Regions from separate parts of the Homo sapiens genome. Here region 2 is linked to region 1. Evidence: fine-mapped expression QTL. Tissue or cell type: whole blood. Region 1 holds a variant in brackets; the other region holds the start of a gene. All regions are shown on one strand. Distances are from middle to middle. Region 1 holds the start of LINC02313 (long intergenic non-protein coding RNA 2313). Region 2 holds the start of ARHGAP5-AS1 (ARHGAP5 antisense RNA 1 (head to head)).

The links.
Region 2: it holds the start of ARHGAP5-AS1, and the variant in region 1 is fine-mapped to the expression of ARHGAP5-AS1 in whole blood (TOPMed, PIP above 0.99). The same link has a PIP of 0.9 or more in T cells.

The regions. Positions count from the first base shown.
Region 1 is chr14:31,939,114-31,951,322 of GRCh38, reverse strand. LINC02313 (long intergenic non-protein coding RNA 2313) reads right to left here and starts at 6,470. Exons shown (of 2, transcript NR_146544.1): 1 at 6,215-6,470; 2 at 1,029-1,234. RefSeq lists enhancers at 1-588, 5,989-7,188. The variant G/T (reference allele first, on the strand shown) is at 6,143.
Region 2 is chr14:32,071,042-32,083,250 of GRCh38, reverse strand. It overlaps ARHGAP5-AS1 (ARHGAP5 antisense RNA 1 (head to head)), which reads left to right and starts at 6,552. Exons shown (of 1, transcript NR_027263.1): 1 at 6,552-7,832. ARHGAP5 (Rho GTPase activating protein 5) reads right to left here and starts at 5,947. Exons shown (of 7, transcript NM_001030055.2): 1 at 5,816-5,947. RefSeq lists silencers at 5,594-5,888, 5,687-5,906, 6,267-6,526.

The DNA of each region.
Region 1 (12,209 bases):
CAGCCAAATGCTGCAGCTTGCACAGCAGCACACAGGGAGGCTGCTTTGTTGGGGGAGCTCATTTCTGGCTGCGGCTCTTGCCTTTCCTGACAGAGATGTATGAGGAGCCTCCCACGGAGGGGGGCGCCTCAGCCACCGCCCCCACAGCCCCAGCTAGAGGGCAGGCGGTCAGGGGGCTTTGAGGGAATTTTCAGAAGACTCTCAGAACATGTTTACACATTTTTATGAAAGTTATCTTAGGGGAGACAGGCAAATAGAGATTAGTTGGATCCAGTGGTCTCATAGTGTTAACTAAACAAGCTCCCTGCATCCTGGCAGTTGCCGACTGGGAAAGTAGTTATGAGAATTCTCATCCCAGCCAGCGGGTAACCACGCCCCAGTAACCGCGCCCCATTCAGGCTTACTGAGTGCCTGAATCAGACCAGGATGGGGCTCGGCTCTGCAGAGTCCCCTGCTCGCCTGTAGGCCATTTGTATTGTTCTTCCCATCCATTTCTCTTTGTGACAGAAGAGCAAACACTCAACTTTGAGACTTTTACTCCAACCTCTCCTGAGGGGATGACAGCCCATTAAAAAAAAGGCATTTATAAATCAAGTGGCATGAGACTGGAGCTGGTGAAGTGGCCGTGGCTCTGTCCTGGCTCTCGATGGCTATGTTTTGATGCTTACCAGCAGCTCAGACAACCTCTAGAGGTGGAAAGATGGCATTCTCATGTGTTTCTGGTGAGAGGACATAAAAAACTGCACCCTGAAAGACAGATCTGCTTGTTGTGGAAGCATTTGACCCTGGCAGCAGGAAATCCCGCCATCCTTTCAGCGTTTGCTCTGCGTAATTCAAGAGATGGCAGGAAGGACAAGCTCTCCCTCGTAAGGGATGTCTCCGGCAGGACATTAAAAAAAAAATGTACCTTATCAGAGTCTAAATGAAACATTCTCAGAAATTTCCTGACACAAATTAAACAAGCCAATTTTATTAGATCAGTATGAAGGGGCTTGAAACTAATTAATCAATGTAGAGATCAGATCAGCCAATGACAGTGAGACAATGGAATGAAAACTTGGCAGGTCAGTGAAAGGCCTGGATTCAGACAGGGAAACAACACTAGGTTTCATTCCCCATGGAAGAAATTCCTATTGCTCAGGAAAAGACACTGAGCTGGGTGACAAATCCACTGTCATCAGCAATCTTCTTCAGGGAGTATGCTCTTAATGACACTCAGATTGATTTTCCATTCCTGGGAGGAAGAGAAGGAAGTAGAAGTGATCAGAAAACGTAAATATCTTTTAATAAACCTGGGCAGGCTGCTGGAAGAATACATGTATACAAGAGAAATAAACAATAAAAACAGTGCACTTGGGGAAATGAGTTTCCAGCATAAACAGAGTAACTATGAGTCAGTAAAATTGGAATGAAAACAGTGTGGGGCATCTTCTGATAGGACTTAGCAGCCACACCCTCTCAGTGGAGGCAGAGGGAAACTCACAGGTAGCCTTGGGCTCATCTCTCAGGTTCCAGTTTCCTCCTTCCCTAAAACAAAGGGTTGAGCCAGATGAACTCTGTGGTCCTTTCTTTCCTAAAGATGCTACTACTATTCAATACTCTTCCAGAGCTACCCTGAGAGGTGGCCAGGTCAGCAGTGACTAAAAGCTGGTGATGACTGTGTTGTGGGAGTACAGAGAGTAGGGACTCCAAAATCAAAGCTAGACCTGGTCTCACAAGCACTCATCACTTCATTGATCAGAAGCCTCTCAAAACCTAATCAAATTGTAGCACATTATATTATACTTGCATAAGACCATGCCAGCCATGTGATGGTTCAAAATGTACACATCCCGCATGTCCCCTGGAATGGTGAAAAACACTCAACTTTTGGAGCCAGAAAAAAACTGGATTCAAATCCCTGCTGCCCCACTAGCTGGTGTTGTGATTCTACACTAGTCACTGTCATACAGCAAACTATTAGTCAGCCATTAAGAAGAATGAGGTGATCTACAGGAACTCACATGGAAAGATGGCCACGATATATTATTTAAAAGTAAATAGCAGACAATTGCCAAAAGGCAGAAGCAACTCTGACGATGGTTACATAGGTAAACTAAATGTGATATATACATACAATGGAATATTATTCAACCATGAAAAGAAAGGAAATTCTGACACATCCTACAGCATGGATGAACCTTGAAGACGTTATGCTAAGTAAGCCAGTTACAAACAAATACTGTGTGATTCCATATATGAGGTACTTAAAGTCGTGAAATCCATAGAAACAGAAAGTGAATGATGATTGTCATGGTCTAGAGCGAGAGGAGAATGTGGAATTGGTGTTTTAATGGGTACAGGGTTTCAGTTTGGGAAGATGAAAAAAGTTGTAGAGATGGATGGTGGTGATGGTTGCACAACATTGGAAATGTACTTAATGCCACTGAACTATACTCTTAAAGATCGTTAAAATGCTAAATTTTATGTTATATATATTTTAGGACACTTAAAAAAGTAAATGACAGAACAGTAAATACAGCATGATCCAATTTTGGTTAAAAATTGTGAATCTATATATTGTCTACGTATAGAGGGAAGTCTGAAAGAATATATACGACAACAGTAATAGGGGTTACTCCAGGGGAGTAGGATCAAGAAGGGGTGGTAATGGATGACACAATTTACAAGTTTCATGTGCCTCGAGACATGAAGCCTTGTGTTTGGTAGGACAATGGCAATATATTCTGACTCTCAAAAACCTCTCTGTCTCAAAAGGAAAAGGTATTCCTCATTTTCTGGTCCCTCTTTCCGGGGATGCTATCTATGACTCCCCCCAGCATTTTTTTTAAGCCAAATACAGTCTAAACTCCTTAGCCTGGTATTTAAAGCCCTATACAACTGGATTGCAGCCAGACTGTTAGCATTCCTTTTTAGCTGCCTCTATGCACCAGTATAGCAACATTCCATGTTCCCTGAGCAGTTTTTTGCCTCCACGGCTTTAAGCCATTCCCTCTATAAATTGTCATTCCTTCCAATCTATGCCTGCAGATATCTTGTCCATTCTTCAAGGATGTAGTCTCTGAATCCCTTGGTGGAAGCAATGTCTCCTCCTTCCCTCAAGGCAATCATCTCATCTCCCAGTCCTGGCTTGCTTGTATACATACATGTCTTCTCTCCCCTCAGGGACCCTGTGTTCCTTGAGAGAAAAGGCCATGCCTTATGTAGCTCAGGAATGCCCATGACACTACAGTGTAATTACACAACTGCAACAATGATGATGGTGCTGACAGCACCACGCAGTGTCACCTGCACAACCATGAGAGTGGGTACCTCCCTAAATTTTGCACCCTAGGCACTTTGCTCACCTCACCTAGTCCCAGCCTACTACCATTCATTGAATGCCTTCACTGAGTGCGTCAGGCACTGTGCTAAGAAAAGACATGTATCACTTCACTTTATCTTCACAGGAGTTTACTACGTAGGTATTACCCACATTTTGCAAATGAAGAAACCACAGCTTAGAGATTAAGTAACTTGCTTAAGATCACATTGCAAAAGTGGGGATTTGAACTCAGGCTTGACTGATTCCAAAATGTGTAGTTCCAATAATTATAGCCCACTGCCTTATCAGTATACTTGAGAACACAGTAGGCATTCAATACTTGAGAACACAGTAGCCATTCAATACTTGTATGTTTAGTGAATTTAATTGGAGAGAGGTCAGCATGCTGCTGGAAGAGCACAATGACTGTCACCCTGGTCCTGTCACAAACCTCACACTGCTCTGGAGTCCTTTGACAGGGGTAGGCACCAGAAGTATCAGCGTCATTCCTGCTTGCAGCTTTCGAAAGAAACTCCATCCTGGTTCTACTGTTAGGCCCAACTACAGCTTCCCCTCACTCTCTTCCTCAATCCATTTCAGACACCCATTTCTCTCCAACAAAAACCCGGCGCTGAACTCATCTCTATAGATGGTGAAGTCAGGAAAGAGAGTGGGAGTGGCTATGAAAACCTCTCAGATTCTGACCTCAGATGCACAGACATGAGGGAACAAGCCCTGCAGACCTGACTAAACCTGGTTAACCTTTTGTGCTGTCCAAAGCACCGATGGTAAAGAACGCCAGAGGGATTCTCAGATGCTGAGAACAGATTCCAAGAGCTCTGAGAGGCATGGAAGGAGGGGCCATGTGCTGCCGGGAGAAGTGAGGACCTTTGTGATCAGTCCTACGTCAGGGGCAGACGGCCCCAGTACTTAGGTCTATCCAGGCTGGCACTGTCCACGTGTGGCCATTGAAATGTGGCTGGTGTGAATTGAGATGTGCTGTAAGTGTAAAACACATGTACGATTCCAAAGACTTAGCATGAAAAAGGAATGCCAAATATCTCATTAATCATTTTTTATGTTGATGACTGTTAAAATAAGATTTTGGAGGGTTAAGTTAAATAATATAGATTATTAAAATTAATCTCACCTGTTTCTAGTTTTTTCAATGTGGTTATAATATATGAAGTTACATAAGTGACTCACCCTTGTGCCCTGTATTATATTCTCACTGGACAGAGCTGATCTGTAGCCCCAGACTGTTTCAGACCATGCCTTACCCCACCAACCAGGGTCCAGCTGCTGGGGCTCAGCTCTATCCTAGCTTGGGTCTCTGCACAGTGGCAGCTTTGGTGACCAATATACTCTGTAACTGCTGTAATTTAGGGGTGTCCCTGACTCTGAAGCCAACTGCAGAGGTTGAGAATAAGAAATAACTACATTTTCATGCATTCACTCACATTTCTCCTCCCAACCCACCACTCTAACTGTCTTTCTTTTAGCACAACTGTTGTAAATACATGATCCCCAGAACAGCAGCATCGCATCACCTGGGAACTCATTAGAAATGCAGATTACCAGGTACCATCCAGAAACTCTGAATCAGAAACTGTGCCCAGCAATCTATGCTTTAACAAGACCCTCCCCACGAGGACATTATTCTGATGAATTCTAATGTTTGAGAACCAGGGTCTTAGGGCACTGTTTCTGAAACTTTGTAGTGTATTAAAATCATGTGGGGTGCTTTAAAAAATTCCAATGCCCAGGCCACACCCCAGGTCAAGTAAATCAGGTTCTGTGGGGGTAGAACCCAGGCATCGGATGGATGTTTGGAAAACTCTCCACTGATTCCAATGTGCAGTCACAGTTGAGCCCCATTGCCTAAGGGTAAAGAACTCAAGAATATTAGTCGGCCATTTTCCCTATGGTGGAGAGCCTGTAGCTTTGAGCCCCGTAGAGAGAAGCCTTCCTGTGGGAGGAGAAAACAGTGTGTAAAATGAAGAAAGGGGCCAAACTGGGCATGCCTAAGCTTCGAAGGCCTCTTTCATTATAGGCTAGCTGCTGTAATGAAACAGGCAATTGCACCTGAGATTTTTCTGAAGTTGAAATGACCACGTGGAAAGGGAACAGCTTCTCTCCACAGTCCATCAAGAGGGGAGTGGCCAATGGGCCGCTTGGAGGACAAAGACCAGGGACACGCCCATTATCTGAGGCTTCAGGTATATTAAAATGAAGAAATCCCCAAATAGGGTTTCAAAAATTGTGATATACTATATTTTAGAAGTTTACATTTAATAAATTAAGGCTTTAACACGTGTAAGCTTTAAAAAAAAAACGCACAGGGTAATATAACCATCCTATTCACGGGATAATGGCAGGATTAATCTTAAAAATTCATGGGCCTGGTACCAAAATCAGGCATAAGTTTAAAGCTGATGATCATTTCCATCTTTTCAGTCTTATTAGCATATCTTCAGAGATAAATTTTTAAAAATCCAAATGTGAAGTCTCTGTGAGTGTGAGATCCCTGGATGAAAGGCCCTCCTTTGCCATGCCCCTGGGGCAGACTAAGAGGACCGCTGGAAAGAGATCCTAAGTGTGGCCCTGGAGCAGCTGTGAATGATTAGGTTGTGGGAAGACAACTGACATCTGGGTGCCTTGCGGCAGCCTGACCAGGGAGGTGGTGTCAGGGAAGCCAGAGCACCCCCCTTCCTCAGTGTGTTCCAGAGCAGTACAATACCTGCCTCCCTACACATAATGGATGCCTGCCCACCACCCTCTGTCCTCAGGCACACTTGGCTGCTGACAACAGGAAGTGAAACAGCCACACCCTCCTTT[G/T]ACCCTATTAAGGTAACTCCTAGTTTGATACAGAGGCTTCCGGGGAGGGAAAGAAATAAGGGAGACACTTACCTTGTGCAGCACCTGCAGTGCTGTTGGTTTATAAAAGCACGAAATCTTCTGTCCCAGAGGCTGGACTGGGCTCATGACTGCATGTGAGATTGTGCTTTGGGAAGAGAAAGCAATCCCAGACTGAACAACAATTTTCTGGTGGCAGGTGCATCCATGAGGAGCTGCAGTCGGTCCCAGCAGCATATGCTTTCTCCTCTGGGAGGGCAACTCGGAGACGTGCAGACTAACGGGACCACTGGCTGCAAGCCTCAGAAACCTCTCAGGAGGTCCCTGGCAAGGCCTGTGGTATCTGGGCAGTGCAGGCAGCCTGGGCACCATAGGACAAAGGGGCGGGGAGTGGGGCAGGGAAGAAACAGCACAGAGGAAACAGCACACCTTGTTCTCATTGACTCGGAGTCAATGGCTGCCCACAGACTCTATTTCCTGGAGATTCAAGCCTCACACTGTCCTGTCCTCTCCCCTGAGTAAGTCTTCCAGAGAGTAAGAGCCACACCCAGGCAGAGGTGGGTGAGGCTGGGGTTCAAAGTACAGAGCCAGCCCTTTTATCTCATAGGCAGAGGAAATCATCCACTGTAAACCCACAGCGTCCTCCACCAGGGCAGCGTTTGATTCCTCCGTCTCATATCTCCGCTTGCCTTCCCTGTGGGTCAGTAGTTCCTGAGTTTCTCTAGCCTATAGAAAACATGAGGAGGAGGAGGAGAGATGGAGGGGGAGGAGGAGGAGAAGAGAAGGGAAGAATGAGCACATGGACTGCCCAGCCCCAGCCCCATGGCACCAGCATGGTAAACACTTGGAGGGAGGCCAGCCGTCTGGCGCCTCCAGTCTTCCACATCACCCCAGCCAAGATTCAGACCTGTATATTCTGGGCTCTTTCTGCCCCATTTCACCCAGGCTTTAAATTACCCAGACTTGGGTCTGGGTTATTCTATCCAAAACTTTCCTCTGAAATCTAGATTGTGATGCAATGTATACGTTCTCTAAATCAGATTTCTGAGGACTAAATGCCAGACCGCGTGGCGTAGCAGTCTGGCTGCAAACCATTTCCGTCAGCCCAGCGGAGGAACGCACAACAAGGTGCTCATCCCCGCAGCCGTGCACAGGAGACAGCAACGGTCCAGGTAAATTAGAAAGGCCTAACTTGAGCCAGCTAGTCATGGCAATTTAGGGAAAGTAAGGACTACACAGAGGCTCTGGGACGGCTTGCGGAATCAATGCCTAAGTTGCTGGATTGCTCCTTCTTTGGCTATGGAGCTAGTGGTTCCAAAATCTACCCCTTGATTCCTTAAGATGGAAGACCATTTAGACAAGCTGAGCCAAAACCCAGAGTCTTGGAACAAGCCTGTAACAATAATAGCAGCAGTAATGACAATGATTTTTAATATTCCTTGCTTAACAAGTGCTGGCCACAGTTCATGTTTTACATGGATTTACTTGGGGAATTTGATCGCTGGATCGAGGTGAGGACCATCCTCACTCCTCAGCTCCCCGGAGGACAGTCCCTTCCCCTCTGCTAGTCCTTTGACACAGACCCATTTTGACTTTTCAACTTCAACATTCTAGTTCAAGTCTTGGCCAGCTGTCAGCCTGGGCTTGTTTCTTCTCATCACAAGAAAAGAAACAGGGCTGCGAAGAGTAGCAAGCCCCTGACTGCTGCCCTTAAATGAGCTAGCCTTTAGGAGAAACACCCGAAGGTCAGGAGGCAAGCACTGTTTGCTCATGGCTATTGTTCCTCTGGGGAGCTGTGAGGGTGGGGTGAGTGGGGGAGGGTCTCTCATTTTGTGACTACACAGTATATAAAAAGCTGAAATGAAAATAATTCAGAAATTATTGTTGTCTTTATAAAACAACCTGTTCTGGGGTACCTTTCTGTACTTCCCTAAGTATATTTAAAACACAATTTTAAAATTCAATTTAACAAAGCCCCATCAAGACACATGCACTGCATCGTGCACATCTGTATAAATGCTCTTAAAGTGCAGGTTTGCATGAACCTTATTTTTCTAGAGGAGTGTGTCCTCTTGGGGAAAGAGGGAAAGAAGGCAGTAAAAATAGCATCGTGTCGCTGCTGACTGTGCATTGGCCACACAGCTAAGCACAGAGTGCCTAGAGAGCTTTGGCAGGATCATCACATGTTGTCCTCACAACAGACCCATGAGGGAGGTATCTCATCCCAATTTACAGATGAAGAAACTGAGGCTCAGGAAGATCAAGTGACGTCTTCATTATCACACAGCCATTAAGAGCTGAGCTTGGTGGGAACTCAGGCTTCCGCGACTCTAAAGACTAGAACTACAGACAAGCTGCAAAGCAAGATCAGGTCAAGATATTCTCCAAAGTTATATCCCGTGGCTCCTCAGTTACAGATGTGATTGCAGAATCCTGCCACTTCTTTTCTTTTTGGTCTCCTTGTTTTCTCAATCCAGTCAGAATGAATTTTAGATGTGTCCCAAGTGCAGTCTGCCTTCAGCCGCCGAGCCACTCAGACACTTGGAGCTAGCCCAAGTAGCCCAAGTAGTAGGTCTGTGAATAAACGTCACTTCTGGAATCATTCTTCAACAAGTACAACTTGACTAGAGAGACTCAAATACCTGCACTGGTCCCAAAGAGCCATCACCCAGTGCTGCCAAGTCTGACCAAGATGCATCCTAGCTAAGGAACCAGTCACACCACTGGCTCTCACGCCATGCCTGAGAGGAGCACAACAGGAGTTTCTCCAGGAAGCTTCCCAACGTTCAGATGAGTTGCTCTCCATGTGGATTCAGCATCCTGACGAGCTGACACCAATTCCAGGCCTGGCATGTCTAACAAATGCAGCATTCAAGCCCAAGACACTGAAATTGTTACCTCATGTTATAAAGGACCTGAAGCTGCATGCAATTAGCACTGCATCTGTGAGACTTGGGAAAGACAACTGAGAGAACAGGGTCTTAAAAAGACTATTTTGGTCCATATGGAAAATTGGTGTGTTGCATGCATGGTAAAATCCTTTCAGATATATTTTTAAACCTTATGTTTTTAAAACTGGGGACTTAAATATTATTATAGGAAAAGCAGCATGATTCCTTTAACATCAGAAGGAGATCTGTAAGTTAAAAAACTGTTGGAACCTTGTAAAGAAATTAACATTGTGAATGAACTCAGGCATTAGTGCAAATTAATCAAACTGCATACATTATAATTTTTAATCAGTCATGGAATTTCAATACTTGAAGGGACCTTGGAAATCATCTGTCCCAAGAGCAAGAATTATGGAAGATAAATGGGCAGGTGGAGAAAAACCTCCTGGCTAGAGAAAGGCACAGAAAAAACAAAGAGTTGGGAGACAGCATGCACAGTGGTTTGAAAGCTCAGGGATTTGCACACACAGCCTGGGTTCGAAGCTCAGCTTTGCTTTTTGATGGCAGTATGAACCAGGCTGAGTTGTTTGACCCTCCTATGTGACAGTTTATAAACAAAAGGTTATTCTGAGTCTTAAGAGAGACCATCCATAGAAAGGGCTTAGTATGGTCCCTGGGATACCATATGGTGCCTGGGACATCAGTGCTGAGTAAATATTAGCTCTATAGAAAAAGGAATTTTACAAACATAATCTGAGTGAGCCAGACTGACACACTATGTATAACTGTGGTCTTTCTCTTTTATTTGGCTATGAAAGAAAAGCAAAATGCAGTATATTGAAGCATTCAGATTTCTGACCATGAGAACAGGACATAATACCCAAGGTCTTTTTTGGAATAAAAAATGATCTTCATAAAAGGGAATCACATTTCAGCTGTAAATAAAGTCAGACCTAATAATCAAGAAAAGAGGGCCCCATGGAGATGGTGAATCACGTATATGAGTAGGTGAAAGCTGCCTCCAAAGGTCTTGATGCAAAGCTGTCCAAGGTTTAGAACTCTGGGCACATTTCTGGCCAAAAGAGGTTCAAAATCATCATCCATGGTGTTCTGTTCTAGTCTTAAGATGGAACTAGTGCTGCATTAAGTGTCTGATTGGGAAAAGTTAATGGTTAACAAATAAGATATAACTCTCTGGGACATCTTGATATAAATTTAGTTTAGCCTTATAGTATAACAATTATTAATTATGCTGAGGGAGGGAACATAGATTGGTGGAAAACTTGTAGGCTCTGGAATAGAACAAATCCTAGAACTGTCAATTGGTACTGTGAGATCTTAAACAAGAGATACAATGTCTTCAACCTCAGTTTCCTCATAGTTGCCATGAAGGGCCAGCACAGTGCTTGCCACACAGCTGGTACCCAAGAGGCATTCATTTTCTCTTTGCATTCATTCTACATTTGTTATATTAAACAGCTCTATTTTTTTTAATTTAAATAGGTTTTTGGGGAACAGGTGGTGTTTGGTTACAAGAATAAGTTCTTTAGTAATGATTTCTGAGATTTTGGTGTACCCATCACCTGAGCAGAGGGGGTGGGAGGGGGTGAGGGATAAACAGCTCTATTTTTGGGTGGAAGAAGAGGGCTATACTTGTTTGACTCAGTTTCCAATACAGATAGGAAGCCCAGCAGTTCAGACCAACACTAAGAATAGACAACACTCTATTCAGCAGCAACACACCTGAATTACAGACACGGTGTTTGTGTGGGAATCAGCTCTGGGCTACTAATTTCCCAAACCCAAACCTATAGTGGCAGAAAAGACAGCTGTACTCAGAGCAAGAGACACGTCTTCATCCTATTTCTGTTACTAGCTAGCCTTTTTACCGTAGGCAAGCCACTTAACATTTAACCTGTGTGTCTGGCTCCAAATCTACAAAATGAGGGCTTTGACCAGATAACATCCAAATTTCCTTAGAGCTCTCAAAATTCTATGTTTTTATAGTTTGGGTTCATGCTGTTTGTTAACGTGTGTGACCACTTCTACTCCAAAAGCCACAGGGCCCTGCTCCATGTCCTCCACCTTGGTTCAAGCCATGATTTTTTTCCTAGGTTAGCGGCTCCATATTAACAGCAGTTGCACAAACAGAATCTAAGTGAGCGAGGCTGCCAGCTGTCACTACTGTATCTTCTGCTTACTCTGGAGATCAGCCGAAGCTGTGTGATCCCAGAATAAATGGATCTGCCATGAAGATAGGATTTTACTGCAAAAATGAGTTTTCTGATGGGTTTAAAGCCACAAAAATACTCTGAAGGCTGTTTTATACCTAAATCATGCTATATGAATTAAAAAGTAAAACACAACCTCTCATACCTCTTCAGGTTTTAGTTTCTTGTGGCTGATATAAATTTCACTTAACTCCCAACTGACATACGCAAAAACATTTTTTGGGGTCAGAATTCAAAATAAAATAGGGGCACATGCCAATTGTAACCCCATACAAACCAATGGGGGCAAGGGCTGGTTTTATAGAATGTTAAGCACCTCATGAAACTAAAGGTTTGATTCATCACTGTAGCTTTATAGTTTCCTTGACACTTAGCAGTGTTTTGTACCTAGCAGGCTGGAAGCTGTTTGAAGGCAGAGATGATACTTCATTCATATCTAACATAGTGCACTGGTATATTGGAAGTACATGTATTATCTGGCATAGTGCACTGGTATAGCATAGTATTATCTAGCATATCATATCCAGCATAGTGCACTGGTATATTGGAAGTACATTAGTTTGCTAGGGCTACCATAACCAAATACTGCAGACTGAGTGGTTTAAACAACGGAGATTTATTTTCTTACAAGTTTGGAGGCTAGAAGCCTGAGATCAAGGTGTCAGCAGGGTTAGTTTCTTCTAAGGCCTCTCTCCTTGGCTTGTAAAAGGCCATCTTCTGTCTGTGTCTTCTCGTAGTCTCCTCTCTATACACACCTGTCCAAATTTCCCCTTCTTATAAGGATACTAGTAAAATTGGATTAGGGCCCACCCTCACTTTAATTACGTCTTTATAGACATATCTCCAAATATAGTCACATTCTGAGGTACTGAGGGTTAGGACTTCAACATATGAATTTGGGGTGATAGGCGGGACAATTCAGCCCAT
Region 2 (12,209 bases), 130 kb before region 1:
TCAAAATGTAGAAAGCCATTTTACAAAAATAGAGAGTAGGCAAGATTTGGCCCAGAGGCCATAGTTTGCAGACCCCTGAAACAGATGAATGGTTTCAATGAAGAGGAAGGATTTGAGTGAACCTTAAAAAATAGACGAGATTTGGATTGTAAAGTCGTCTCTCCAGGTGTACAATTAGGGTAGAATGGCTGACCACAGTACCCATGTTGGAAAGAAATACTGTTTTGAACATATAAGTTATGACCCTAGGTCTCAAGGGAAAACAAGAGTTAGACTTTGTCATAAGCAATAGAGAAGCCACTACAGATTAGTCTAGAGGAGGAATACAAGACTGGGCACAGAGCCCAAGAGATAGACAAATACTACAGGCTAAATGCACGTGAACTATCACAGAATTTAAAAGAGCAATCCAGCCAGGTGCAGTGGCTCATGCCTGTAATCTCAACACTTTGAGAGGCAGAGGCCAGCAGATCACTTGAGGTCAGGAGGTCGAGACCAGCCCGACCAACATGGTGAAACCCCATCTCTACTAAAAATACAAAAATTAGCCAGGCGTGATGGCGTGTGCCTGTAATCCCAGCTACTCAGGAGGATGAGGCAGGAGAATAGCTTGAACCCAGGAGGCGGACTGCAGTGAGCTGAGTGCCACTGCACTCCAGCCTGGGTGACAGAGCAAGACCCCATCTCAAAAAAAAAATTAATTAATTAATCAATAAAAGAGCAATGCAAGACAAAGAGAGCTTGGTAACTGGCTACTAGACATAAGAAATACAAGGCAACACATTAAGCCAGTGTTTCTTAATGAAAAACTAATCAGTTTCAGCAATAGATGGTGGTTCATTTCACTTTCAGGTGTTATTTCCAAAGACAAATGAAACCTCGGTAATGAAACAAGGCAAGTTCAGGATTATTAACATAAATTTCAGCATCATAAACTTCAGAAAATTACCTATGAGACCATTTGGTGTAATACTCTTATTTTCTAAAGAAAACATATGAAGAATTAGATACTTGGTTAATACAGAAGAGTAGAAATCTAGATCTTAAATTCTCTAGATCAGGGGTCCCCAACCCCGGTCTGGTAACCATCTGTGGCTTATTAGGAACTGGGCTGCACAGCAGGAGGTGAGGGGTGGCCTGGAAAGCGGGCATTACCACCTGAGCTCCGCCTCCACAGCAGCGATAGATTCTCAGAGGATCAAGAACTGTAGGTTGCTTGCTCCCTTTGTGAATCTAACTAATTAATGCCTGATGATCTGAGGGGGAACAGTTTCATCCCAAAACCATGCCCCCGGTTCCGTGAAAAAACTGTCTTCTACAAAACCAGTCCCTGGTACCAAAAAGGATCGCTGCTCTAGATTATAGTAATGTTAATTTTTTACTAGTTCTCTAAAAGAGATATTACCTTGGCTCTGAAAAGGTAAGTATAAAAAGAAACAATTTTGAATCAGTAAAAGAACATGATCAACAGAAAGAAAATGAACAAATTATGCCATATCAGAAGCCAAGGTGAGAGTTTTTCCAAGGCTGTTTGACAAACCAAATACAGTAACTAGACAAATAGTTATGCCAACGTTACGTGTTTATTTCTACATCACCCCTTCTATCACTCTTGCATTAATACCTTCTCCAAATCTTTCACTCTGGCTCATAAGGTACAAAACTGATGCTCTTACATCTTTTTTTTTTTTTTTTTTTTTTTGAGAAGGAGTCTTGCTCTGTCGCCCAGGCTGGAGTGCAGTGGCGCGATCTCGGCTCACTGCAAGCTCCGCCTCCTGGGTTCACGCCATTCTCCTGCCTCAGCCTCCCAAGTAGCTAGGACTACACATTTTTATATTTTCTTCCCATCTGCTAATCTGTCCTCTACTTACCTGTGCTTTCAGTCCACACTGTCATTAACTTCCCTAAATGTCTTTTTCCCCCTTCATTATCCCAATTGTATGCTACTTCCAAGTAATACTTTCCTTTAGCTAAATAACTTTCTACTAACTTTTAAATCAGTATGTAATCCAAGTAACACTTCCTTTAGCTAAATTCCTTTCTACTAACTTTTAAATCAGTATGTACTTCCCTAAATATACCTCAAATTCTTAAAGTGTCATGCTTGCTGTCTCTCCACAGAAGTTAAAAGATCTTTTAAGGGAGCAATATTTTATACTTTTTGTATCACTCAGTGCCTAGCTGCTCAATAAAATATTGGTCAGGGATAATAAAATAGGCTAAATCTAATCTAACACTAGAAAAATGAATATCCATTTTTACCATTAACTCTTCATGATGAAAAGCTTGAGACTCTAAGCAAGTAACATACTAGTCATTTTAACCACAAAATTACAAGGTTATGCTCTTTTTCCCAAGTAATAATTCTATGAAGTAAAACACAGATATGACCAAGCATCAACAATCTGTTTCATTTCCCTGCAAATCTAAAGTACTGTAGACAGCTTCCAAAACACAGTGGGGGGAAAAAAAAAATTATCCTTTTTGGTCTCTCTTACATCTAAACTCCTGCTTGCAATTAAAACTCAAAATGTTTCTTCTTCTATGAATGATTCCCAGAGGTCCTGAGGAAAACAGGCATTCTCTTTCCTGCACCTCTTAATACTTTTAACTATTTACTCCTTTATACAGCTTGAGCTATTATACCTATATCTAATTTATCTTGGTATTTCCAGGGCTAGGCACATAGTAAGTGCTAAATAAAAGTAATCTGAACTAATGAATAACGAATCAGAGACTTAAAAAAAATTAATGCAGATCAGTTTTGTTTTTTTTTAAGGGGAATTTTTTTTTTAACTTTGAAGTTCAGGAGTAGATGTGCAGGTTTGTTTTAAAGGTAAACTCATGTCAAGGGGGTTTGTTGTTACCCAGGTATTAAGCCTAGTACCCATTAGTTATTTTTCTTATATTTAAATAATAAATATTTTTCTTATATTTAATTAAGTTAAATATTCTTATATTTAAATACAATACACTTAATACATGAAAATAGAAGCTGTCCTGGTTTGGGAGGGTGGGTTGTCATAGGAAGTCTCAAGGCATCTAGGAAAAAAACCCACAGGAATCCAAGGAACAGAGTTTGAAAACCAATTAAAGTTCATACTTAAAATTCTTAGCATTGAAGCATTTTTCTTAATTTCTAATATGGTTTTTCCTATTTCAATAAAATAATCGACAAAAGCCTGCACTTAAAACAAGAGCCTGATTACTCAAATTACTGAATGATGAATCTACTGATGTTTCTTCACAGGTCTTTTAGAAATTAAATTCCCTTGGTGTACTTTAAATATATAATACAAGTATCTTTTAGGAACATAGACATCACTAAAACAACACTGTACAATGCTTCTTCAGCCAATTATATTACTACACACCTTCTTGGTATGCAAAGAAAAAACTGTGGACCATACAACCCAAATAAATAGTTCTTAAAATAGTATCTATGGAAACTACAGTTGCGACAAAACTTATTCTGTAGCTACCAAGAAAATCTCTATTATGCCATTTCATATTTAAGAAGTGACCACTAAAGGCCAACACTCATCTTACATCCTGCCAATGTTGGTAAAGTTTAGTAAAGTCTTTATGAGACCTAACTTTTTCTTCAATTAAAAAAAGTGAGTTAGAAAACTTATTATCGCTACTTCAAATCCAAAAAAGGAATGCAAATACAATATTCATTCCTTAAATAATCTTAACTTTCAAGGTCAAAATAACTCTCCAAAAAAATGACTGTGCTAATATGCTTTTCAAACACAAATAAGAAGGGGAGACGGTTTTCAAAACATTTAGGATAAGTATCTTGTGACAGAATTAAGGTAATAATTTTGCAACACATTTTAAAAATTGCTAAGGTCGTTTAAATGGGGAGGGACACTACAAAACTCATAAAGATAACAGAATTCTGCCGCAATTCTTACATCAAAGTGTAACCCACCTCACTCCCCAGTACTCTTAATAATTAATGTACAAAGAATGGCAAAATAAGACATGTTGATCTAGGTTTAAAAACACAGCCTACACAAGACAACCAAATCAATAGTTATTTAATCATCTGTACCGTCTGATTCTGCTTTAAGTCAATTAGATCAATAGTGCTATTTCTTGAAAGTTACAAGCATAGGTATGCGCAGCCTTTCACTCCAGTGCGTTTAGTCATAAATTGCTCCAGTGTCTTTGCAAGTTTTTGGTGACACATACTTACCGCTCTTTGTACTACAGATAAAGGTAATGGAGGTCAATTAGTATACAAAGGATAGATGAAAGCAAAAAATGAGAAAGGAATTTAAAATGAAAGCAAAATCTTACTCAAGAAACTATCTAGTAGGTTACCTAGACGGTTAGTAATACTTATCTACAAACACTGAATAAGAATACCGTTTTATCGTATTACAGTACAAATAAACTAGAATTGACAGCAAAAGGTTTCATTAACGTATTTTTAAACCAAACATTATTCCAAATGTCTAATCGCTGCATCTAGATGAAATTTTTGTTAGGAGAACCATTTTAAGTGGAAATGTAGAGCAAGCTCCCATGAAGTGAACGAGATCCTTCATGCGGATAAACACCACCTAACATTCTAACTGAATACTGGTTCTGGATTTAAGTGGAATTGACAAACTCGCCCCCCGCCCCTACCTGTAGAAAGCAACATAAGCAAGTACTAGTAAATACAGCGAAGCATTTTGCTGTTTTACACCTGAACATTTAAAAAAAAATTCAGTTTCCTGCCTATCACAAAGGAAAAAATAAATGATCGATAAGAATTTAAACTTAAAACGTAAGCACAAACCCATCTATATGCCTATCTTGCTCTATCTCAAAATATTTGAATTCCCATTTATTAAGCGATGGCCAAATCCGAATTTCTATCACATGGTAGAAGTATAAGCGTCTCCCCTACAACTTTTTCGGGATTTTACTAAACGGCCTAATAACAGTTTGCCCTTACTTCCGTGCACCTTTCAACCTCAGCTACACCCCGAGCCTCCAGCTCTCTTGCATTTCTAATAACGCTGAAGAGGGAGGGTGAGAGGGAGTATTTCTGTGTGGATAAGTGCGCGCGCGCTCCCGCGCGGCTCCCCACCCCCACCCCGATACTTTTCTTTAGTGGAAAGAGAGGAAGAATCTGGAGGTTATTCTAGCGAAAACTCAGTATCAAAGCCTCAACCCAGTCGCAGTCAGCCCATAGGACTCTGGGCTCTGGATGCGCAGTGCAACTTCTCATATCTTACTCCAAGCTTCAAAGCAGATGGAAAATTGGTGAAGAGAACCCAGGGAGGAGTCGAGGAGATGAGGGAAAGTGAAAGGGCCGATCCCCCCTACAAGGCGTTTAAGTTTGCAACCGAGACTGTGTTTCCGCGAATCTGCACCCGCCCCGTGTACCCTTTCCAGGTGGAACTCGTTAACAGCAGCAACCCGGCCAACGGACACCGCCACCTCCCCTCTCGACGGACCACCCGAGACTCGAGCAAGTGAGGCGGCGGGCGAGAGCGGACGCCTGGCGGGGCCGGCGATCCCCGGCCAGCATCAGGCCTCCGCCGACCCTGGCCCCGTCACCTGTGGAGAAAGCACCCCCTCCCCCGGCCTCTCTGCCCTTCACGCCGAACGTATCCCTAACGCTGCAGCTGCTGCCCGCCCGGCCTGCGAAAACCGAGCGCAGCGCCAGGCTCCCCTCGGCGGCCGCGGGGCCCCAGCCCCTTCAACTGGTTACAACCGGCAGCGGCGACCGAGCGGGGCAGCTAGCCGCAGGAGGGTCCCCGTCCGGGAGGGGGCAGGCAGGCTTGGAGGAGCGGGGTCCGCAAGGTCCTACCTAACAACGTCGGTCTCCTCCGTCTCCTCCTCAACGGCAGCGGCCCCGGCGGTGGCGGCGGCAGCGACATTCCTGGGGACCGCTCCCGCCGCCGCCGCCTCCTCCTCCACTCTCCGCTCGCCTCTCTTCCTCGGCGCGCTCACCGAGCGGCGCGTCCCTTCAGCCACCTCCCCCCGCCCTCCCCGACACACACGCCCCGAAACCCTGAGCCCCACGGCTCCCGCAGCCAGCTCACCCACCCTCCCTCCCTCCCTCCCCGCCACCAGCGGCGGCCCGTCCCTCCCCCCTTCCCCAGCGCCCGCCGCCGCGCCGGGCTCAGTAATGGCGGCCACTCGGGCTCCCTCGCGCTGACGGATTTCTCTCCCTCTCTCCCGAACTTTACCTCAGCATCTCTCCCGGCGCGCGCAGCCACACACCCGACCGGGGGCGGAGCGGCGGCGCGGCGGCGCAGCCTGGACGGGACGCGCGCGCGCGCGCGAACCCGCGCTGCCCTCCCCACAATCCCCCGTCCCCGCCCCTTCACCTCGCGACGCCTCCCGCGCCGCGCACCCGGCACGGCCCCGCCCCTGCCCTCGTCTCCCGGGAGCCTGGGAAGGCGCGAGCTATCCAGTCGGAGGGAGGGGGACGAGCGCGCGGGGCCGCGTCCTCGCTCGCGTCCCCGCTCCCTCCTCCCCTCTGCTTCTCCCTCCCCTCCACTCCCCCATTGGCTTCTACCCCTCCCCCTTCTTCCTCCGCCTCTCCCACCATTGGTTCCCTCCCCTACTCCATTCCTTCTCACCTTTTCCCTTTTACCCATTGGCGTGAGTATTTTTCCTCAGCTTCCCTCTTTCTCCGTATTCTGCTCCTCCTCAGTCCCATCCTCCACGCTTTGGAAGCTACTGCCTTACTGCCCGGAGCGCCGTCGTCCCCGAACCTCCCCTGCTTCTCCCTTTCCTTCTGTTCCGGTTTCTGGTCGTAACTCAAGAGCAAACCACCGTACTGCAAAGGAACCAGATATTGTGCTCGCGGTTCCAAACCGGGCATGGGCACCGAATGCTTCTCGATAAATCCCCTTATGGTCTCTGAGCATTAAAGAAAGCAAGGGAGGAAAACATGCGCCCAAGCTCGTTCGCAGGAACATGTTCGCGTGTCTGCGCCTGTGTGCGCAGCCAGTTTTCTGGCTGAGGATCGCTCGCCAACTACAGACATCACCCGCCCAGGACCCGGTGCCACACTCACCCAGAAGACGAAACTCCACAGGAGCGAGAAGAGGAGTCCATTTCTCCGTCGGCTCGGCACGGCACGGGGATGCAGGCCCCTGATTCAGTACGTTCTGTGAAAGTGGAGCGAGAAGCCAAGACGTGGATCGAGAAGCCCCGTGGGGCGGGTCTCAGGGTGGCCCAAAAGACCCCTGTTCACGCCACTACCAGCCTAACTTTAGGAACTGTCGTCCACCTGGCTTTTATTATACTGCCTTAAACATATTCACTTTTTTGAGACTCTAGAAATTTCACAAGTTTTGGGGTAGAGCACACTGGGCTTTGGGTGTGTTTCTCATGAGGGCACTGACGCTGAATGGTGCAGTGAGAAAGGACGGTAGAAACCACTGCCTTTGCTTTTACCATTGAAGAAACTGAGGTCCTGTGACTTTCCCGAGGTCATCGGAATCTGCCTTGCACAGGAGACTTAAAATAGTTGCCAGCAGATAAAAGAATGAGCAAAACCACATCTACTCCAATTTGTTAAGTCTGAAAGAAAGTAATTGAGGGGGGATTCCTCTTTGGGGAAATATTTATTTCCTGCATTGAAAATAGTTTAATGTTAGTAAACATATAAAAAGTATTTTAAATTCAAGTTATTCTTTATTTCTTATGTTACATAAGGTACTGAAGTTAGCCAAGGTTGCTTTTGTGTTATAATGATGCAGCTGCTGCCAACCAGAAGTACATTTACGGTCTGTCAGTAAAGAAAACAAAAACTGCCTGTTGGTAAAAATCTATTAGAAAATATTTGTCAGTAAATTTGTCACAATATTCCAGCAGAAGTTCTGTTCGTTTTTCCGTCTTCCTGCCCTTCATATTTCTCAAAGGTAGACTTAATAAAGGTAGAAGAGACATTTCTAATTTTTCTATATATCTCTTGCTCCCTAATTTCTAAAAGGCATAACTAAAATGCTTTATTCGAGCCACTCCCTTGCATCTGAACCCTACCTACCAAGTAGGTTAAGAGTAGGTTAGGTAAGGTCTGTAGCTACTTCTTTCTTTCAGTTACAAATTGTAGGTGGGAAAGAAGGATGCGGAAGGAAACTTGCAAGGAAAGCAAACAGAAAGAAAAAGAAGTAAAAAAGGAGAGAAGGGAATTTGGTGGGTGGTCCAACCATCAAAATGTGGTACTAATGCCATAGGTATCTACACCACTTATGTAAGTTGGAATGTTGATGCATTCCAACGCATGTTTTTATCTTTGTACTGAAAGCCCTTAAGAATACCCGAAGTAAACATATAAAAAGTATTTTAAGTTCAAGTTATTCTTTATTTCTTATGTTACGTAAGGTACTGAAGTTAGCCAAGGTTGCTTTTTAGTGTTATAATGATGCAGTTCAAAGTCATAACCTGAATAAGATGTTAAGTACTATAGAGTGTACACCCTAAAGATACCTTAAAAATTATGTCCTAAATAATCAGAAATTTTAATAATCATGGACATGTATCAACATAAACCAAAGCCAAATAAATCAGGGCTTCTAAAGAAAACGTTAAAAAGGTGTAATGTTCAGTTATAGGACATGATACTGGAGGCAGGGAAGACTTGAAATCTCATTTATTTTCTTATAATGAAGACACCAGAAGACGTTAAAAAAAAAAAAAAGATCACGATTTCCAAACAATGATTTTCATAGTCGACATTATTTTCAGTTCTTTATCTTGATTTAGGGAGCCTGGAAATTTAGGACTTCGTTTCTTATTAATACTAATAGTCTAAAGGTGTTTACCAGTACAAATAAGTTATTGTATGTAATTTGCTCTTCTCAAAAAATAGAGTTTTCTGTATCAATAAAAATCTGAAATGGGGGCCACAATTCTGTGGCTAATAATGCCTATATATCCATAAATAAAAGGCATCAAAGAGCAGGAGGAAAAATATGTAAGATGGCATCTTTAAAAATTGATCAGGAGCCAAGACTTCAGAGAAAAAGCTTTAAAACACCCACCCTCCCTACTCAAAAGGATAATTTTTAAGAAAATAGGTAACTTATTTACACACACACACATGCGCGCGCACAAATATCGGACAGAAATGGAAATGGAATAAATATTAACAAGCCCTCTCAAATCAACTACTCTTCTTATCTAGAATAAAAAAGTTAAGCCTCTCTTCTGCTGTACTGGATAATTAAAATAACTGGACTCTTTGTTCCTCGTTTACTTTGAAAAAATTAGAATAAGATTTGTCAGGCATTTTCGGTTTTTAATTTAAATTTTCTTCATAAATCTCTAGTTCTTCATCACATCCTAATAAAGTATTAATATGCATGGTCTTTTTGAGATCAAAAGACATGACAGTCATAAAAAAAGTTATCATAATTCCAGCTTCTACCATTAGTGGTAATACTGCAATATTCAAATGTTTCATATGTTGTGGCTTCAAAAGAACTTACCCTATAGAGGCAGCTACACCCCCTGCTGGAAATCTTTGATCATAACAACTTTGGCTTCTGTAGTCTCAATCAGGAACATATGAAAAGCCAAATAAAGGGCCTTACCACTCATGACAGAATTGACCAATACTTTAGCCTGTCTGATACAAGACAGGCTTTTGGAGAACAACCTATGTCAGAATATCACCTTGATTACAGACAAAATACACAAAGAGGATGGAGAATAATGATGTAAATAGCTAAATAGCCAAAACACTTGTAAGATATTTGCTTAATTTCCAACTGTATTTCCACTCTTTACCTTATCCCCATCTCCTGCCTAGACTTCTCTTTTTCTCTCTATCTCATACAATTAGGCCTACTTGAGGGGAGGAAGAAGGCAGGATAAGATGGGATATTAATCCTTCAGCTAGGCAAATAATGGTGTATCAATCCACAGTAGCCATTTGCTGCATTAAGGTGCTTAAGGGCTTTCCCCAAATTTGTTTTATGGGTACCAATGATATTTTCAACATGAAGAAAAGGTGCTAATTATGTCTTGGCTGTTACTGTAGAAAATATTTTGACAAGAGTTAAGGTAATTGTGAGCATGGGACTGGAACAGGAGGAAAGTAGTGCATTGACCTTCTTGGCATTTTGTTCCACACAGCCTTGTTCTGTTGATATTCCAGAACTGTATTTTCAGACTGAAATCCCAAAGATGGTATCAGAGTCTAGCTTTAAAATGTCATGCTCATGAAACTCTAGTCCTAGGACATAACTGAAATACTGAAAGCAGCACACTATTTTTAAATAATTCGTATTTTGTAAAGATTATTTGTAATGCAGACTCCTTTTAAAGGAAAAACAATTCATTCAGATCCCACCAGCACAAATACTTTAATTAGACAAAATCTTCAAGTTATTTCCTCTCACAAAAGGAGGTATTGTTGGGCCATCTGGACTCTCTATTGAGTTTTTATGAAAGATCACAGCTTGAATTTAATCAACCCCAATAAAGTTAACCCCATAAAGCTAAAAAATAATTGCAAGAATTGCTAACTGAAGGATTTGAATTCTCTGTTTGAGATTGTTACCACTGTCATTTGTAAATCATTACAATGGGAAACAGGAACTTGTATTGCTTGACTATTTAACCTCATGAACATAATTTTTGTGAATTTCCCACTCTATTTAGACCAAATTTAGATTGTGAGTCTCTCTACATAGGAATAACAAAATGAATGTTTGGCTCTATATAATAACTAGAAGATCATTAGTAGAAAGTTCAATAAATGTTTGATAATAATAACATGAAACACTCTAGGTTTTATGGATTTCTGTGGATTTGTGGCTAACAGAAGGCTTTAGATTATATTTCGAAGTGCCAGCTGAGATAATCACTTTGGAAAATACAAATCATTTAAAGAAATCGCTGAATTCACCTGTGAAAGTTGAGTTAGATGTCCTTCCTCAAGTACAATCGACATATTTCCACATAACATCTCTCTAGTAGGTAAATGTGAGTTACTAACAACAAATAACTATAGGTCTGAAACATCTGGAAACATTCTAAAGAACTGGTGCAGTATAGTTTCTGAAACCAACGATAAAGTGGCTAATCACTTCTCAATTAAGTCTCTGTCGGTTTTCCCTATTATTTTAAACTAAAATAGATGGTAAATACTTATTTTGCCAATTCACATGTTGCATTTTCTTCAAAAAGGCAAAAATACAACTATTTTTCTAGTTCAATAAATATATACATACTTCTAAATACAGAAGGCCCCTGACTTACGATGGTCCAACTTAAGGTTTTTTGTCTTTACGATGGTACGAAAGCAATAGTGACAGCATTCGGTACAAACTGTACTTTAAGCACCCATACGACCATTTTTTTTTCACTTTCAGAACAGTATTCCATACATTACATGAAATATTCAACATTTTATTATAAACTAGGCTTTGTGTTAGATGATTTTGCCTGACTGTAGGCTAATGTAAGTGTTCTGAGCATGTTTAAGTTAGGCTAGGCTAAGCTATGATGTTTGGTAGGTTAGGTGTATTAAATGCATTTTTGACTTTACAGTATTTACAATTTATGATGTGTTTATTGGGAAGTAACCCCATCATAAGTTGAGGTGCATCTGTACTTCTGTATGTCTCAAATTACAATGTGATTCTTTTGATGAACACATAGCTTCTTTCATATACATCTGTTATACAGTGAGGAATAAGAATACTCACCTTCTTTCTCCAACTAGGCTTCTTACTCCTCTTCGGCACAGCCCAGGACAGGCCTATATCACATACATCATTTGTTTCTGGTTCTAATTCTTATAGGAATAGACATTAAATAACTTTTTTATGCTATGCCACAAAATATTTATATTAGTTATTCTGAGATTTTACAAACATGACAATAATGTAAAACTGATGTAGCAAAAGCATATAAAGAGCTATATGTATCCTATAAATTAAATTCTTATAGAATTAAATTTAAAAGGAAGCAATTATTTAAAATGATATTTTAGAAGCATGTATTTATTGAGGTAGAAAAATAGTCATAATACTTTATGTGGGAAAAAATGGTACAAAGCAATAAAAGCTGTATGTTGCTGTTGTTGTTGTTGCTGTTTGAGATGGAGTCTCACTCTGTTGCCCAGGCTGGAGTGCAGTGACTCAATCTTGATCTCAGCTCACTGCAAGCTCCGCCTCCCAATGGGTTCACGCCATTCTCCTGCCTTAGCCTCCCAAGTAGCTGGGACTACAGGCGCC